3 separate regions of the Homo sapiens genome follow, and regions 1 and 3 are each linked to region 2. The links come from fine-mapping of genetic effects on gene expression. A gene starts in region 2. Each other region holds a variant in brackets. All regions are shown on one strand. Distances are between the middles of the regions.

Evidence for each region. PIP is the estimated chance that this variant, and not a neighbour inherited with it, causes the effect. A credible set is the group of variants that fine-mapping cannot tell apart.
Region 1: its variant is the best candidate, but not a certain one, in a credible set for the expression of TYMP in neutrophils (BLUEPRINT, PIP 0.75).
Region 3: its variant is the best candidate, but not a certain one, in a credible set for the expression of TYMP in whole blood (TOPMed, PIP 0.84).

What each region holds. Positions count from the first base shown.
Region 1 is chr22:50,410,071-50,416,494 of GRCh38, forward strand. PPP6R2 (protein phosphatase 6 regulatory subunit 2) reads left to right here. Exons shown (of 24, transcript NM_001242898.2): 5 at 4,482-4,619; 6 at 6,022-6,087. Among named protein-coding and RNA genes, the nearest start is that of MIR12114, 5.8 kb to the left of the region's middle. The variant C/CT (reference allele first, on the strand shown) is at 2,885.
Region 2 is chr22:50,526,781-50,532,054 of GRCh38, forward strand. It overlaps TYMP (thymidine phosphorylase), which reads right to left and starts at 3,232. Exons shown (of 10, transcript NM_001953.5): 1 at 3,124-3,232; 2 at 2,716-2,939; 3 at 2,356-2,558; 4 at 1,732-1,830; 5 at 808-937; 6 at 385-503. The coding sequence starts at 2,929. It overlaps CIMAP1B (ciliary microtubule associated protein 1B), which reads right to left. Exons shown (of 7, transcript NM_001014440.4): 2 at 5,189-5,274; 3 at 4,790-4,993; 4 at 4,411-4,515; 5 at 4,157-4,278; 6 at 3,932-4,072; 7 at 3,646-3,780. The coding sequence ends at 3,700. RefSeq lists enhancers at 1-219, 28-599, 390-589, 610-759, 2,480-2,639 and 1 more and silencers at 3,020-3,069, 3,080-3,929, 3,940-4,169, 4,330-4,439, 4,790-4,949 and 2 more.
Region 3 is chr22:50,563,374-50,569,243 of GRCh38, forward strand. LOC107985568 (a long non-coding RNA gene) reads left to right here. Exons shown (of 2, transcript XR_001755606.3): 1 at 1-194; 2 at 5,234-5,770. CPT1B (carnitine palmitoyltransferase 1B) reads right to left here. Exons shown (of 20, transcript NM_152246.3): 20 at 5,488-5,708. It overlaps CHKB-CPT1B (CHKB-CPT1B readthrough (NMD candidate)), which reads right to left. Exons shown (of 30, transcript NR_027928.2): 29 at 5,794-5,870; 30 at 5,488-5,708. Among named protein-coding and RNA genes, the nearest start is that of SYCE3, 3.4 kb to the left of the region's middle. The variant C/T (reference allele first, on the strand shown) is at 2,800.

The sequences.
Region 1 (6,424 bases), 120 kb before region 2:
ATTTTTGCTTTCTCTTTTTTATTGTTTTAGAATAAGCAAATTTTAGAATGAGTTTGTCACTTTCTACATTCTCCCTCTCCATACCCTGCCCCCCAAAAATAAACCTACTGAAATTTTGATGAGGTTTGCATTGGCTGTAGTTGGGTCTGACAAACTGTGGTCCACAGGCCAAAAGCAGCCATCACTGATTGTGTGAGTGAGGTCTTAGTGTAGCACAGCCACTTCCATTCCTGTGCACGCTGCCCGGGGCTCCTTTCACACCACAGCAGCACAGCTGGTAGCTCAGGCTACTTTGATTTCTCAGAAATACACTGCAGTTCTCTGTATGGCAGTCTTAAGCATCTTTCACTAGATTTATTCTTAGGTATTTGATATCTTTGTATTATTTTGAGTGGTGTCTTTTTTTTTTTTTTTTTTTTTTTTTGAGACGGAGTCTTGCTCTGTCGTCCAGGCTGGAGTGCAGTGGCGCAATCTTGGCTCACTGCAACCTCCACCTCCTGGGTTCAAGCGATTCTCATGGATTCTCGTGCCTCAGCCTCCCGTCTGGGGGATAGAGTGAGATTCTGTCTCCAAAAAAAAGAAAAAAGAACCTCTTATTTTTTTCAAGCCCATAATGATCAATGTATCATATTCACATACATCAGTATTCTAGTTGTGATATTATACTGGTGTTTTAGAAAATGTCACAATTGGAGGAAACATGTCAAAGCATACAAGGATTTTGTTTTTGTTTTCGTTTGAGACAAAGTCTCCCTTTTGTCTCCCAGGCTGGAGTGCAGGGGCACAATCTCGGCTCACTGCAACCTCCGCCCCCTGGTTCAAGTGATTCTCCTGCCTCAGCCTCCCGCGTAGCCAGGATTACAGGTGCCTGCCCCCATGACCCGCTAATTTTTGTATTTTTAGTAGAGATGGGGTTTCACCATGTTGGCAAGGCAGTCTTGAACTCCTGACCTCAGGTGATCCACCGGCCTTGGCCTCCCAAAATGCTGGGATTACAGGTGTGAGCCCCCACACCCGGCCTTTAAATGGTATCTTTTTAATTGAAATTTTGACTGAGATTACTGTATTTACATGAGGTTGTATGAAATAATATGAAGAAAATCCTTGGCCAGGAGCAGTGGCTCACTCCACCCAACACTTTGGGAGGCCGAGGTGAGTGGATCACTTGAGCCCATGAGTTTGAGAGCAGCCTGGCCAACATGCCGAAACCCCGTCTCTACTAAAAATATAAAAATTAGCTGGGTGTGGTGGCACACGCCTGTAATCCCAGCTCCTTGGTGGGGCTGAGACAGGAGAATCACTTGAACCTGAAGGCGGAGGTTGCAGTGAGCCAAGATTGGGCCACTGCACTCCAGCCTAGGTAACAGAGCGAGACTCTGTCTCCAAAAAAAAAGAAAAAAGGCCAGGCGTGCTGGCTCACACCTGTAATCCCAGCATTTTGGGAGGCCAAGGCAAGCGGATTATCTGAGGTCAGGAGTTTGAGACCAGCCTGGCCCAACATGGTGAAACCCTGTCTCTACTAAAAATACAAAAATTAGCTGGGCGTGGTGGCCGGCACCTGTAATCACAGCTACTCAGGAGGCTGAGGCAGGAGAATCACTTGAACCCGAGGGTGGAGGTTGCAGTGAGCCGAGATTGTGACTCTGCACTCCAGCCTGGGCGACAAAGGGGAGACTGTCTCAAACAAAAACAAGGCCTGGCGCAGTGGCTCACGCCTGTAATCCCAGCACTTTGGGAGGCCGAGGCGGGCGGATCACAAGGTCAGGAGATCGAGACCGTCCTGGCTAACACGGTGAAACTCTGTCTCTACTAAAAATACAAAAAATTGGCTGGACGTAGTGATGGGTGCCTGTAGTCCCAGCTACTCGGGAGCCTGAGGCAGGAGAATGGCATGAACCCAGGAGGCGGAGCTTGCAGTGAGCCGAGATTGCGCCACTGCACTCCAGCCTGGGCCAGAGTGAGACTGCATCTCAAAAAAACAAACAAAATCCTTGTATGCTTTGACATGTTTCCTCCAATGGTGACATTTTCTAAAACACTAGTAGAATATCACAACTAGAATATTGATGTGAATGTGTGAATATGATCCATCGATCATTATGGGCTCAAAAAAAATAGAGGTTATTTTTTCTTTTTTTGGAGATAGACTCTCACTCTATCCCCCAGGCTGGAGTGCAGTGGTGTGATCTCGGCTCACTGCAACCTCTGCCTCCTGGGTTCAAGCAATTCTCATGCCTCAACATTCCGAGTAGCTGGGATTACAGCCACCCACCACCACGTCTTGCTAATTTTTATATTTTTAGTAGAGACCATGTTGGCCAGGCTGGCCTTGAACTCCTGAGATCAAGTGATCCGCCTGCCTTGACCTCCCTCAAGTGCCAGGATTACAGGCATGAGCCACCATGCCCAGCCTGGGGTTATTTTTTCTTAAATGTTTGGAAGAATTTATTAGGCCATTAAACCTTCTCTGTATAGAGAGCCTATTAATTATAGATTTTGTGGAGTTTTAGTATGTTCTGGAACTATTCTGATTTTGTTTCTTGTCAGTTTAAATAAGTCCTTTTTTTTTTTTTTTTTTTTTTTTTTTTTGAGACGGAGTCTTGCTCTGTCACCCAGGCTGGAGTGCAGTGGCGTGATCTCGGCTCACTGCAAGCTCTGCCTCCTGGGTTCATGCTATTCTCCTGCCTCAGCCTCCCGAGTAGCTGGGATTACACGTGCCCACCACCATGCCCGGCTAATTTTTTTTGTATTTTTAGTAGAGACGGGGTTTCACCATGTTAGCCAGGATGGTCTTGATCTCCTGACCTCAGGTGATCCACCTGCCTCGTCCTCCCAAAGTGTTGGGATTACAGGTGTGAGCCACTGCGCCTGGCCTAGATAAGTC[C/CT]TTTTTTTTTTGTTTTTTTTTTTGAGACAGAGTTTTGCTCTTGTTGCCCAGGCTGGAGTGCAATGGTGCGATCTTGGCTTACCGCAATCTCCGCCTCCCAGGTTCAAGCAATTCTGCCTCAGCCTCCCGAGTAGCTGGGATTACAGGCATGCACCACCACGCTTGGCTAATTTTGTATTTTTAGTAGAGACGGGGTTTCCTCCATGTTGAGGCTGGTCTCGACCTCAGTCTGGTCTGACCTCAGGTGATCCACCCACCTCGGCCTCCCAAAGTGCTGGGATTACAGGCGTGAGCCACCGCACCTGGCCAGATAAGTATTTTTTTTCAAGGAAATTTCTTTTCTAAATTTACAAAAACTGGCATAAAATTGTTTCTATTAATTTCTCATAATATAGCAGGTGTGGTGGCTCCTGCTTATTATTACAGCATTTTGGGAGGCTGAGGTGGGAGAATCACTTGAGCTCAGAAGGTGGAGGCTGCAGTGAGTTATGATCGCACCACTGCACTCCAGCCTGGGGGACAGAGTAAGACCTTGTCTCAAAAACATAAAAACAAAACTACAAACCTCTCATAATAGTTTTTATTTCTGTAGGATCTTTGGCGATGCCCCTTGTTTCATTCTTAATATTGTTATTTGTACCTTCTGTTTTGTCCTTCGTCTTTCTAGAAGTTTAATCATCCTTTTCAAAGAGCCATCCTCCTCTCCTCCTCCCCTACCCCCTCCTCTTCCTTCTTCCCCTTCTCTTTTCCCACCACTCCTTTTCCTACTGTCCCTCCTCATTGCAGCACTGGGGAGTGAGGCTGAGGCCCTGCAGCCAGGTGGGCCTTCTCTGTGTTCCCATTGTTTCCAGTGGAGGGCTGGGTCTACCCCAGCCCCCAGCCCAGTAGCCTGGACATAGCAGACACTTATTTCTGTAGGCTGAGTTGAGCTGAATTTGCAGCGAGCCCAGCCTTCACTTCTCCACTGTTACCTTGGATCCGCCGTCTGAGCAGCCCACTGCGTCTGTGATGGGTGCTGTGCCCCCCCATGGCCTCACGCTTAGCTGTCTACACCTTGTTGGCACTGGTCATCAGCCAGCTGCAGGATGCCTCTTTTTCTTTTCTAAAACCTCAGTCTTCTTTCCCCTTCAACCGCTCATGGGTTTTGGTCAGCAGCTGGCGTCTTGTGCACTCTGTGCTCCCTGGATGTGTGTTCTAGGCCTGGGGCTGCCAGTGATGGCCATCAGCTCAGCTCAGCTCTGTCTATACCATTCGTTTCTGTTGGAAAAACCCGAACCAGTAGGTATTGGATGGCAGCTGCTCACGGCAGCCTGTGCTGCCCCACCTGGGACAGCTGTGTCCTGTCGGTGCAGAGCCACAGGGGTCCCTGTGCAGTGGCCCCCCCCCCCCCCCCCCCGCCCAGACCCTCACATACACCACTGCCTGGTAGGACTCTGCCTGTCCCTTGAGGGGGCTTTCTTACAATCTTGTCTGGGTCTTTCCGTTATTTCTGCTTAATATAATTACTAGTTCAACTTTCCCATGAGAGTTTTTGGAGGAGGTGTCTCAGGGTTGTCAGGGTCGGCCCCGCCTGCCTCTCAGGTGTGTGTGATTTCAGGTGATTACGTTTTTGAAGAAGAAGGACAAGTTCATCAGCCTGGTGTTGAAGCACATCGGCACCTCAGCGCTTATGGACCTGCTGCTGCGCCTGGTCAGCTGTGTGGAGCCAGCCGGGCTCCGGCAGGACGTCCTGCACGTGAGTGCGGGAGTCCCCCCCCGTTCCCGAGGGCAGGGGTGCTGCAGGAAGCCAGCTGGTTAAGTGCAGGAGCTCAGAGCACCAGGGCGCCCGGCCCCCATCTCTCCACCTAGCGTGCATTTCTCCGTGGGGCTGTTAGGGGTTCTTGTCAAGGATTGTGGCCTGTACCTTTTCCACTGTCCCGACTTAACTCGCTCAGAAGCACAGAGCAGAGAGGTCCCTTCTCCCCGCAGTCTCCAGCCTCCGGCTCTGTGAAGAGGCCGAAATGGACTTTCCTCGCCTGCCTCCTTTTCCCCTGCCAGCGCCCACCCCTGTGGCTTAGAGCAGGAGGTCAGTGAGGTGCTAGCCCTGCGTCCAGGCCTGTGCCTGCCAGGAGAGCCCCGGTGGACAGCAGTTCCCTGCAGAGCCCCGTTGTTTACCCTGGAGTGTGGATGCGTCTGTTCTGATGGTGTTTAGTCAGTGAGAACAGGTGCTACAGTTCCCGAAAAGAGGAGGATGCCCCCCAGATAAGCCCAGGAAATCCGTGCTGACAAACTTCTGCTCACTGTTCGGCCAGCTTTGTTTGTGGTGAAGTTTAAAATAGAGTAGAGTAAACCCTGAGGCGCTCTGCCTGTTTCCCAGCTCCTGGAATCAGGACTCATCCGATGACCACTCTCACTCTTAGGTTAGTAATGCTTCCTCAGGGAGGAGCTTCTCACCAGGAATGACTGACCGCCACCAACCTTTACACAGTGGACACAGGATCAGTACTAGCTGTGGTCATAGCCGTTAGTGGGAAGCCTGCAGAACTGTACGTCAGGCAGCCTTTTAGCTGCTTTACTTGATTCACTTCACGAAGTAGCCACGGGGGGACAGCTCATCCCATTTTTGGATAAGGAATTTAGGCACAGGGCGCAGCAGTGCGGTGCGGTAGCCAGGTACGGCCCAGGCCTGCCAGACCCCGACACTCACACTGGGCCCCCGTTGCCCTTGAGCTTTACCCCACAGTGTTCGTGTAGCCTCTCCAGGGTGGAGTTACTCTTCCTCAACATGGGAAGGCCCCAGTGCTGCAGGGAACAGCTGAGGCTTCTCTGGCTTCAGCATCCAGCGGGGCTCCTGAGCTATAGCTTGTGTGGCTCATTTGCACCCTGGTCCTTAAGAGAGAAGTCCTGAAGACAGAGCTTACATACGCACCATTAGGACAGAGGGATGGTGGTCATCCTTTATCATCTTTTGAGCCACTCCCAGAACCTCCCAGAACTCAGTCATTGTGTGTTATGTGTGTTCTTTCTGGGTCTGGGGTGTGTCAGGCAAAGAGTCTATATTCTAGAAAACGGGTGCAGTGCTGCACCAAAGGGGAAAGGTTCCTGTTGTTTACTTAGACTTGAGCAGCGACACTGAAAGGCCTCTTTTTCTCTTTCAGTGGCTGAATGAAGAGAAGGTCATCCAGAGGCTTGTGGAGTTGATCCACCCGAGCCAGGATGAAGATGTGAGTGTGCTGCTTACCGAGCTTCGTGCATCAGTCCAGGCCTGTGCTGCCAGGTCACCCACTGCTGCGGGCCAGGGGGCGAGGGAGGGCAAGTCATCCCTTTCCTAAGATGAGGATCGGTTAGGTACTTTTCTTTCTTTAATCAAGCACTGACTTCTAGGCTGGATTTTTTTTTTCTTTTTTTTTTTGAGATGGCGTTTCGCTCTTGTTGCCTGGGCTGGAGTGCAGTGGTGCAATCTCGGCTCACCACAACCTCCGCCTCTTGGGTTCAAGCAATTCTCCTGCTCACCCAGTCGGGTGAGCCACCACACCCAGCCTCTAGGCTGTTTTCTTCTTG
Region 2 (5,274 bases):
TTCTGCAGCCGGTTCTTGGTCGAACTCCAGCCCCTGCTGCACCCTGGGTTGCCAGCCCCCCAGCATGAAGTCAGGGAAGGATTGGGGTGGGGAAGAGACACGAGTGAAGTGCGACACCTCGCCATGGGGCCAGGAGGAACTTGTACTTGGTCTGGGGCAGGAACGCCACAGAGGGCTTCCCCAGGTCCAGGCCGGGCCAGCCTTGACCTCTAAAGTCACAGCAGGTTAGGAAGCCGTGAAGGAGGGAGGGACTTCGGGCAGAAGAGGGTGGGACTGGGGTTAGGCAGGACTGCTGAGTGGAGGGAGGCAGTGGGGACGGGAGGGGTGAAGGGTAGGCTGGGCCCGCATCAAGACGCTTGCCCAGGGAAAGGCCACACCGCTCACCAGCGTCTTTGCCAGCTCCCGGGCCTGCTCCTGGTTGGGGAAGACGGCGGCCCCTCCGAACTTAACGTCCACCACCAGAGCGGACAGCCCCTCCACGAGTTTCTTACTGAGAATGGAGGCTTTGGGGGAGGCAGAGGAGGTTGGAGACAATGGAGAACCTGGAGCTTCTTGGGAGAGTTCGGGGATGCCGACTTTGGGGTCAGGGGCCCTGAGCATTGAGGGTCAAGTCCCTTATTATGGGGGTGGCAGCACCTGGTGGGTTGAGTATCAGGCCACCCCACATGGTGGTGGTCAGGCATCTTGTGATGGGGGTAGGGGGGCACACGGTCAGGTGACGGGTAACTCCTAACGAGAGGCCCTTGACTTGAGTTTGGAGGTCAGGAGCCTGTGAACATGCAGAAGCAGGCCATGGAGTCAGGTCACCTGTGATGAGTGGCAGGCTGTCCACGGTGGCTGTCACATCTCTGGCTGCATATAGGATTCCGTCCGCAGGAACCAGCTGCTCACTCTGACCCACGATACAGCAGCCCGCCTGGTCCAGCAGCACTTGCATCTGGTCAGACATCCCCTGTTCTCAGTGACTTATGGTAAATGACTTAGCAGCTTTTTTTTTTTTTTTTTTTTTTTCTGTGAAGAGTCTTCCTCTGTTGCCCAGGCTGGAGTGCAGTTGGCACAATTTCGGCTCATTGTGACCTCTGCCTCCTGGGCTTAAGTGATCCTCCCACCTCAGCTTCCCAGTAGCTGGGACTACAGGTGCGCACCACCACACGCGGCTTTTTTTTTTCTTCTTTTTTTTGTAGAGATCAAGTTTCACTATATTACCCAGGCTGATCTCCAACTGGGCTCCTCTGCCTCCCAGAGTGCTGGGACAGGGTCTCACTCTGTTGCCCAGGCTGGAGTGCAGTGGCATCGTCCCGGCTCACTGCAGCCTAGACCTCCCAGGCTCAAGTGATCCTCCTGCCTCAGCCTCCTGAGTAGCTGGAACCACATGCGTGCACCACCACACGCAGCGAACTATTTTGTAGAGATGGGGTTTTGCCGTGTTATCCAGGCTGGTTTTGAACTCCTGGGTTCAAGGGATCTGCCCTCTTCGGCCTCCCCAAGTGCTAGGACTACAGGTGTGAGCCACCGTGCCCCGCCAGCCATCTGTGATTTTGACCAACTTCCCATTTTATGATCCTAATCAAAGTTCCACTGATGATTTCGGCCCAGGCCCAGTGACTCATGAGTAACCTTGACCAGTGTTCTCATTAGTGACCCTAATGATCCACCAGTGATCTTTTAGTGATTCTGGCCAGGGTCTCCATCATCAACCTGGATTAATGACTGATCCGTGGCGCCCCGTACCTGCTCTGGGCTCTGGATGACATTGAATCCAGGAATAGACTCCAGCTTATCCAAGGTGCCTCCTGTGTGCCCCAGACCACGTCCGCTGATCATTGGCACCTGGTGGTCAGGGATGCTGAGTACCCTGCACAGTACCCCTCCCCCACCTCTGTGCATCCCTTCACCTTCCCTGGCTAGGAGTGCAGCTGGATTTGGAAAGTATTTAAGCAGCTATAGGGGTGCCCAGCTGGTGAGGGAATGGAAAGGAAGTTTTCTTGGTTGAGAAGTGTCAGTAGGGGAGGAGGTTGGTACCTGTCCTTGGGGAAACAAGGCTTGGGGCAGAGGGAGGAAAGTCCTCAGCTCCTCCCTTGGGGGAGCTGTCTGGGGACCCAAGGGGAAAGGGGTCTGAATTCCATCAGTGGATCTTTTTCCTGCTCCAAGGGGCCTGGTCTGGAGCCAGAGGGGCCCCAAGCGCTGTGCTGGGGAACGGGGTGGGGAGAACTGTGCTGGGGAGCAGGGTGGGGAGAAGCCTTGGTAGGGTCTTGGAGGCTTTGGGCCAGGCTTGAGGTTGGGAGCTGCCTGTGGATGGACTGGTTGCTGCATGTGCGGTATAGGCTCCCGTCTGGAAAGGAGGTGGTTTCTAACCTTGCAGCCACATGCCGCCAGGGCAGGTGCGAGGACCAGGCTGACCTTGTCACCCACACCCCCTGTGGAATGCTTGTCCACAAGCTGCTGGCGCCAGGCCTCTGGCCACTCCAGCTGCTGTCCCGACTGAGCCAGGGCCTGGGTCAGCACCGAGGTCTCCTCCAGATCCATGCCCCGAAGTCGGATGGCCATCAGCATGGCCCCTGGTATGTGGGGGTACGCGTGAGGGTGGCAGCCCACAGCGGTGGGGCACCCTGGGGCCGGTGCTGGTAGTGGGGCACCGTCGCACCCCCAGGGACCCAAAGTCTCTCGGGCTGACCTCCCAGTCGGGGTCAGGAACGCCCAACCCTCCCCACGCACCGATCTGTGCGCCCTGCGCGCTCCCATTCACCACAGCGGCCACGAAGCCCCTGATGTCCGCTTCGCTCAGGCGGCCTCCGTCTCGCTTCATGCGGATCAGCTCCGGGAGCTGCTTGGGCTCTGGCGAAGGGTCGGGAAGTCCCTGGCTCCCTTCCCCGGAGAAGTCACCAGGCGCGGGTGGGGCCCCGGTTCCCGGGGTCATCAAGGCTGCCATCGCTCCGGGCCTGCGGGGATGCCTGACACGTCCGGGGTCTGCGGCCTCCCGGCGTCGGTGTCTGAGCCACGTGCTCCTGTCCCGACCCCTTTCCCGTGTCTCTCCGGTGTCCGCCCCTCGGTCCCGTGTCTGTGTCGCCCTCGTCCGTGTCTGCCTCCCGCTTCCCCGCCTCGCGACTTGAGCCCCGCCCGTACCTGCTTAGGGCGCTGCCCTCGCCCGCTTGCTCCGGATCCCAGCCCAGGTACCCGGCCTCGCCCGCGGGTCGGGACCGTAGGGTTCAGGGTTCGCGCACAGCGGTCCACTGCCGGCGGCGGGGCGGCGGCGCCCCAGGACGGCAGGCGGGTGGGGCCGCCTGGAGGGCGGAGCTCGGCAGTCGCCGCCCCCGGGAAGCCTTGCACGCCGCGCCCCGGCCAATCCCCCGGTGCCCCCGGACACGCGGAACTTCCGGGCCGTCGGGGCCCGGGGCCGTCGGCGGGGGTGATCCCTGGCCGGTCCCGCCCGGCGTGGGTCTCGGGCGTCTGTGGCTCCCGAGAGTCCCCCTCCCGCCCTCGGTGGGGTCTCGACGTTCGGACGCGGCGCAGCGCTGGGGTCCCGGCCTCGCCCGACGCTCGGGCCCCGCCCCGCTGGGTTCGGAGTTGGGACACGGCCCCAGCCGTGGCTCCACCCCAGGCCTTGCGCCAGGACGCGCAGAGAGAGAGAGAGAGAGGCGGACACGATGCGGACTCGCAGACTTTAAGCAAACACGTGTGGGGCCGCTCCCGCCTGGCGGGTCAGTTGTCCGCGTCGGTCACCAGCGGGGCCAGGTAGTCCGAGTGCCGGATCCCGAAACTCCAGCCGCGGGGCTTCCGGTGCTGCGGGCCCGGAGACACCGCTGACCTCGCGGGGCCGGCATCCTCTCCGCGCCGGGACCCCTGGACCCCCGGGGACTCTGATCCCATCACTCCGACCTCAGGCCCTCCCCACTCTCCTGACTCTGACCCTTGACCCTGGGCTCCAGGCCACCTGATCCACGTTGTAGGCCGCGGGCCCTGGCTTCCGAGTGTTGTCTTGGGGGAGCGAAGTCCGCGCCAGAATCGTGAACTGGGGGGCCCGGGACTTGTAGACCCCTGGACTCACGACCTGATAGGCGCAGGGGCCCGGGGTCTGCGAGAGGGCAGAGGGTGCTGGCTGCCGCCTCCACTGCCGCGGACCAGGGACCCCCTGCGTCCGCCCCGGCCCCTCCCCCACCTTGCTGAGGTCCTCGAAGAAACTGCCAGCCGCTCTGCGGCCGTAGATGGAGCAAGTTGGGGCGGAGACTTTGCCGATGACGCGCGGACCCAAGAGCGAGGGCACCGTATAGGCCGCGGGACCTGGGGAGGAGGCAGGGCTCGGGGGTAGTGGGTCTCCGCGGACAGGCGCAGGGTGGTCCCAGCTCCCGGAGGGCGGTCCCCGGTCTCGAGTGGGAAGGCCCACAGTTCTGGGATGGGCCGTTCTGACCTCACCTGGGCTCTGCTGTTCCGCCTGGACACCCCAGTTTCGGGGAGCAATGGTGTGCCGAGGCGCACTGGGGTACGTCGCGTTCCCCGCTCGCTCCGGGAAGTACCTGCCTGCGGGGCGGATCAAGGGTGTGGGGGGCTAGAACTGCGTGGGAGCCTGGTGGGTACCCGAGATGGGGTCCTGGGACTAGTGGGGAGTCTGAGCCACGATTTATCAAAGCCCCGTGGGGTTCGGGGTTTGGGATTTGAGATCCGGATATGGGGGTACCGAATATGCGGTGTTAGGGTATCCGAGGGGGACTCGGGGTTCAGGTCGGGGGTTCCCAGGTGGGCCTCCCTGGAGGCAGTTCGGCGTTGGGGTGGCCAGGGGCCCGGGGGTCCTGACCAGGTCCCGGAGTGAGGAAGGGCGCTGAGCGGCGTGGGCGGCCGTAGATGGAGTAGGCGGGGGCGCCGTCGGTGCCGCGCACGGTCATGCGAGCGGGCACCAGGTGGCCTGGCCCGGGGCCGCACGTCGTCTGCTGCGTGGGGAAGCGCGCGCCGAAGGTGAAGGCGGGGGCGCGCGGCCGCGACGGGTCATGCAGGGCGTAGCCTGGGAGCATCCGAGTTAGCGTCTGGCCGGGCCCAGCCCCAAGCCCCATCTGCAACACGGACCCTCCCCCGGCACAGACCCCCTCTCCCCTCTAGCAGGCACGGTTCAGCCCCGAGCGCAGGCCTCCCTGGTCTCTTCCCCTTCCCTCCCCCAGGCGCCGTCCCACCCCTCAATCCCGGGGCCTGCCCCTTCTACCGGTGTTGGGCGGCAGCTTGTATTTGGGCCCGGGGCCTCCGTAGTGCGCCGCGATGGGGCCGCGGGGCCGGTGTGGCCGCCAAAGG
Region 3 (5,870 bases), 37 kb after region 2:
GCACGCAGGTCTATGTGGGCTGGAAAGTGCTGGGGCCTCCCGGGCGCTCCTGGTCTCCAGGCAAGAACTGGAAGCAGAGCCACTCAACACCTAGAAGGGCAGTGACAGAAAGCTCTGGCTGGGAGGAGGCTGACCAGAGGCCAGTCTGAGCTCAGCCTTTTTTTTCAGAGGGACGTGGGCACCCTAGAAGGGTGGTAAGTAGGCGAGTGGCAGAGTTAAAAGGTCTCTGGCTGCCGAGGCGGGTGGCGACGGGGCCGGCCGTTGCTGTTGTTTGGCTGAGTGGTGGACAGGGTCAAAGCCATTCCAAGGTCGACTTGACAGGGCTTGGTAATGTGGGAGGGAGGGAGAAAGAAGCAAGGGGCTAATGGCCGGGGTGATACCACTGGCAGAGATGTGGAAGAGTGGGAGAAGCTAGCTTGGAAGGTTAACTTTGATTTTGAACACCTTGTGTTTGAGAATCCTGACAAACCTTAGACCCCCTGAATTTTCTCTCAGGGATTCTGATTCTTAGCAGCCTGATTGCAGAGGAGGAAAAATGGCTGGGGTTGAGCCAGACAGTTCTGGGCAAGGAGTGAGCATTCGCTTGTTTATTGAGGAGGCTGCTGCCTGGGCCACACTCCCTCCGCCAGCTGCCAGGTTCCTGCCCCGGTTGAACCCGGTTTTCTGGCCATCCCTTTCCACCTGTGAGCTGCTCTTCATACTTCCATTTGCTTATACAGCCCAGAGCCGATTTCTGTTACAGCAGCCCAGAGAAACATGAATAGGGAATAATTCTTTTTTTTTTTTTTTGAGACGGAGTCTTGCTCTGTTGCCCAGGCTGGAGTGCAGTGGCACGATCTCGGCTCACTGCAACCTCCGCCTCCCAGGTTCAAGTGATTCTCCTGCCTCAGCCTCCCTAGTAGCTGGGATTACAAGCACATGCCACAACGCCCAGCTAGTTTTTGTATTTTTAGTAGAGACCGGGTTTCGCTATGTTGGCCAGGCTGGTCTCGAACTCCTGTCCTCAGGTGATCCACCCGCCTCGGACTCCCAAAGTGCTGGGATTACAGGTGTGAGCCACTGTGCTTGGCCCGAATCAGGAATAATTCTGATGGCTAAGGAAGACAGCTTCCGAGAGAGTAGGAGAAAGGGCACAGGATTCCAGGCAGAAGGCCCATCTAGGGCAAAGGCGAAGGTGTGGCTCAGCCTGCCTCCTTTGGGGAATGGCGAGTGTGTTCTGGGCTCAGGGTTCTTGGTAAGGGACAGAGAAGACTCGGGAAAGATCAGTTGAGCTGGAATGTGCAGGCTCTTGAGTACCCTGCTCAGGAGCTGGAGGTGGGCTACCCTGCAAACTCCAGGCCATGAAGCCCAGGAAGATGTCAGGCTGGTCTTCCCATGCCCTTGTGTATCTGAGACCAACTGTCACTAAATGTTTCCTTTACGCCCTGGACACACAGCTAGACTCTACTTCTCAGATTCTCTTGAAATACAAGTCTTTAGCCAGAGGGTGTGGAGGGAAATGCTGTGTATCACTTTGAGGTTGAGGCCATCAAAGCCTCCCACAGGTGGCCCCCTCTTTCTCTCCCCACGTACTTATGATGTTGATGCCCAAGGCAGCTTGAGTACTACCTGCTGAAGGCAGGGCCTCTGTCACCATAGATCCTTGAATAACAGTATGGAGCAGAGCCCTCATCTCAGCCAACTGGATTTTATCTGACCAACAGTCCAGCTTCTATTGGGTTGAGCCATGAGGTTTCAGGATTTATGTTATGGCTGCTAGCTTTTATTAATGCAGACCTGCAGACCTATGGGACATGGGGAACTAATTGGGGTTTGGGTTGTCATCAGAGGTTTATTTATTTTTTTAAGACAGGGTGTTGCTCTGTCACCTAGGCTGGAATGCAGTGGGTCAATCATGGCTCACTGCAGCCTCAATCTCTCAGGCTCAAGTAATCCTCCCAACTCAGCCTCCAGAGTAGCTGGGGCCACAGGCAAGTGCCACCACGCCTGGCTAATTTTTTTTTTTTAATTTTGTAGAGATGGGGTCTCACTGCACCACCCAGGCTGGTCTCGAACTCCTGGGCTCAAGACCTCCCAAAGCACAGGCATTACAGGCGTGAGCTACCATGCCCAGCAGTCTCCAGAGGTTTATACCCTGGTTTACCACTGTTGTTCCTCATCTCACTATTTTAACCCAGAACAAATGAGATAAAAGAACTTTAATGCTGAATTTTGATGTTAATTGAAAGCTAGCTTGTTGGAAACTCTGTTTACTGCTATCTCAGGACGGGGTGAGCTGATGTCCCCAGAAGACTACCAAAACGCAGGCACCTTCCCAGGGGAGGCTTACTGGCACCCAAACAGGTAGAGGTCTCTGGAAATACTTTTGGAAGCTGAAGAACGCTCTGATATGGAATGTAACATTTTGCAGGCAGAGGTGTACTCTTTTTTTTTTTTTTTTTTTGAGACAGAGTCTCGGTCTCCCAGGCTGGAGTACAGTGGCACCATCTTAGCTCACTGCAACCTCCATCTCCTGGGTTCAAGCGATTCTCCTGCCTCAGCCTCCTGAGTAGCTGGGACTACAGGCACGTGCCACCACACCCGGCTAATTTTTGTATTTTTAGTAGAGGCAGGGTTTTGCTGTATTAGCCAGGATGGTCTCGATCTCCTGACCTCGTGATCTGCCCGCCTCGGCCTCCCAAAGTGCTGGGATTACAGGTGTGAGCCACCGCGCCCGGCCCCAAGAGGCATACTCTTATAGCTCATGAAGACTTGAAGGAGGTGAGGAGCCTCTGCCCTGGGAATCCTCTCATGCACTTT[C/T]AAGGTTTTAACTGTCTTCAAAACTGTTAGAAGGAGCCTAGATCTCTCCTTAGCTTTTCATTTATATTTTCAAGAGTCTGAGACATTTTCACAGCTATTTCTTATAGGCAAGTCAAATTCAACATTTAAAGACCTAATTTAATCACCCAATCACCCAATATAGAAAATATGAGTTATCTTTGATTCCTCCTGATTAGACTTGTCAGTCCTACGTTTGACATTCCAAGCTCCTTAATTCTACTTTCCTATGGCACTGCCTTAGTTTAAGCCGCTCATTTCTTCCAGCTCCACCACCACCAGGAGCACTTCTCCAGCGGGTCTCCTTGCTTCCACTGTTACTGCGTCCTACTTTGTTCTAACGCCACCCTGGTTAGCCAGTGATCCCTTAAAATTAGGACAGATTATGCCACCCTCTGTTCAAAGCCCAACAGCTTCCCCCGTCATTCAGAAAATCCAGAATCTGGCCTACGAGGCCCTTGTTACCCCGATCTAGCTGCCCCGCTTGCTCTTCCCATCCCTGACTCCACACTAGCCACATCCTTCATCACAGCAGACACCGCTCGCAAAGCTTTGGCTCTTGCTGTTCCTTCAGCCAGGAATACTCTGCCCTTAGGTACGGAACATGAGGGACATGAGGGACATGACTTGCTCCTCGTCTCCTTCAGGCCTGTGGTCAAAGGACCCCAATCAGGAAGGCTTGCTTTTGCCACTGTCTGAAATTGCCACCCACCTCTCCTTTTGTCTCTCCACTTACTTTTCCTCTTTTTTTTTTTTTGAGACGGAGTCTTGCTCTGTCGCCCAGGCTGGAGTGCAGTGGCGCGATCTTGGCTCACTGCAAGCTCCACCTCCCAGGTTCACGCCATTCTCCTGCCTCAGCCTCTCCCAGTAGCTGGGACTACAAGCACCCACCACCACACCTGGCTAATTTTTTGTATTTTTAGTAGAGACAGGGTTTCACCGTGGTCTTGATCTCCTGACCTTGTGATCCACCTGCCTTGGCCTCCCAAAGTGCTGAGATTACAAGCGTGAGCCACTGCGCCCAGCCCATGGTGTCTTATAAGTGTCTTATATAAGGGTACCATTTTTTTTTTTTTTGAGACGGAGTCTCGCTCTGTTGCCCAGGCTGGAGTGCAGTGGTGCCATCTTGGCTCAGTGCAAGCTCCGCCTCCTGGGTTCACGCCATCCTCCTGCCTCAGCCTCCCAAGCAGCTAGGACTACGGGCGCCCGCCACCATGCCTGGCTAGTTTTTGTATTTTGTTTAGTAGAGACACTGTTTCACCGTGTTAGCCAGGATGGTCTCGATCTTCTGACCTCGTGATCCACCTGCCTCGGCCTCCCAAGGTGCTGGGATCACAGGCGTGAGCCACTGCACCTGGCCATAAGGGTGCCATTTTTAATCTTTTATATAACATTTTTACTATACCTTTTCTATGTTTAGACAAGTTTAGATACACAAAGACTTCCCATTGTATTACAGTTGCCTACAGTATTCAGTATGGTAACATGTTGTAAAGGCATGCGGCCTAGGAGCAACAGGGTAAGCAGCATAGCCCAGGTCTGTAGTAGGCTGCACCATCTACCTTTGTGTAAATGCACTCTAGAATCTTTGCACAACAAAATCGCCTAACAATGCACTTCTCAGAATGTATCCCCTTCATTAAGCAACCCATGCCTGTACTTGGTAAGTGGATTATCCCAAAAGCCTCCTGGTTTCCTGCCAGCTGCTCTGTCCCCTGACCACACCTGCCTCACCCAGCAGTGAATTCGACATGGGCAGGAATAGGACCTTGTTTACCACTGAATCCCCAGCACAGGGCCAAGTCTATGGTGGGTGTTCAACAGACACTGGTTCCTGGCCGGGCACGGTGGCTCACGCCTGAAATCCTAGCACTTTGGAAAGTCGAGGTGGGAGGATCACTTAAGCTCAGGAGTTCGAGACCAGCCTGGGCAACATAGTGAGACCCTATCTCATGGGAAAAAAAAGAAAAAAACAAAAACAGATGAAGACACTGGTTCCTAAATGAAGGTCCAGAACTGAATCTAATTCACTTCAATTACAGTAATTGAGGGCCTACTTATACTTTTCATAAAAATTATTTTTTATGGCTGGGTGCGGTGGCTCACACCTATAATCCCTGCACGTTGGGAGGCTGAGGCAGGTGGATCACCTGAGGTCAGGAATTCGAGACCAGCCTGGCCAACATGGTAAAACCCTGCCTCTACTAAAAATACAAAAAATTAGCCGGGCGTGATGGCGGGCGCCTGTTGTCCCAGCTACTCAGGAGCTGAGGTACGAGAATCGCTTGAACCCAGGAGGCAGAGGTTGTAGTGAGTCGAGATCGTGCCACTGCACTCCAGCCTGGGCAACAAGAGCGAAACTCCGCCTTAAAAACAAAGAATAATTATTTTGTATTTACTCTTAACATGATTTTAGCAGCCGAGCCAACCTCAGTGAAGGAGTGTCTGTTGCTACAGGTCATCCTGCGTGCCCTCTTGCAGACATGACCACCTGGCGCCTCAAGACTTCAGGCCTGGGCCTGCAGCCCCTTTCCATGCTGACAAGAAGCTGCGGGGCCCGTGCAGGGTTGTGCCTCAGCCAAGAGGGGTGCCTCACACATGCCCCTGCATGGGAGGAGGTGGGCTCACTCTCCAGCAGACAGACAAACAGAAATGGCCCCAGGGAACAGGTGAAGGTTCTGAGGCAAGTATTTATTCCAAGCAAACACGTGGGCGTGGACAGCTATCTCAGAGCCTACGTCACTCAGCAGAGTCACACATTTCAAAGCAGGTCACACAAGTCCCTCATGAACAGTCTTCCAGCTTCAGCCCTTCTCTTGCCACCTCTGTGGTCTGAGCTGGGGGAGGGGGAGGGCCTCCGAGTTCCCAAACAAAACACAGGTACCTAAGGGCTGAGAGAAAATTACACAGCCTTATTTTTATTAGTATCTATCAAGAAAAAAAAAAATCAAAATTCCCTTCCTGCTCCAACCCCACCTCCACCACCTGGGCCCTCAGGGAGCAGCATCTGCCCAGCGAGGACCTGCTGCCGGAGCTGTCCTTGGAGCCTGGGC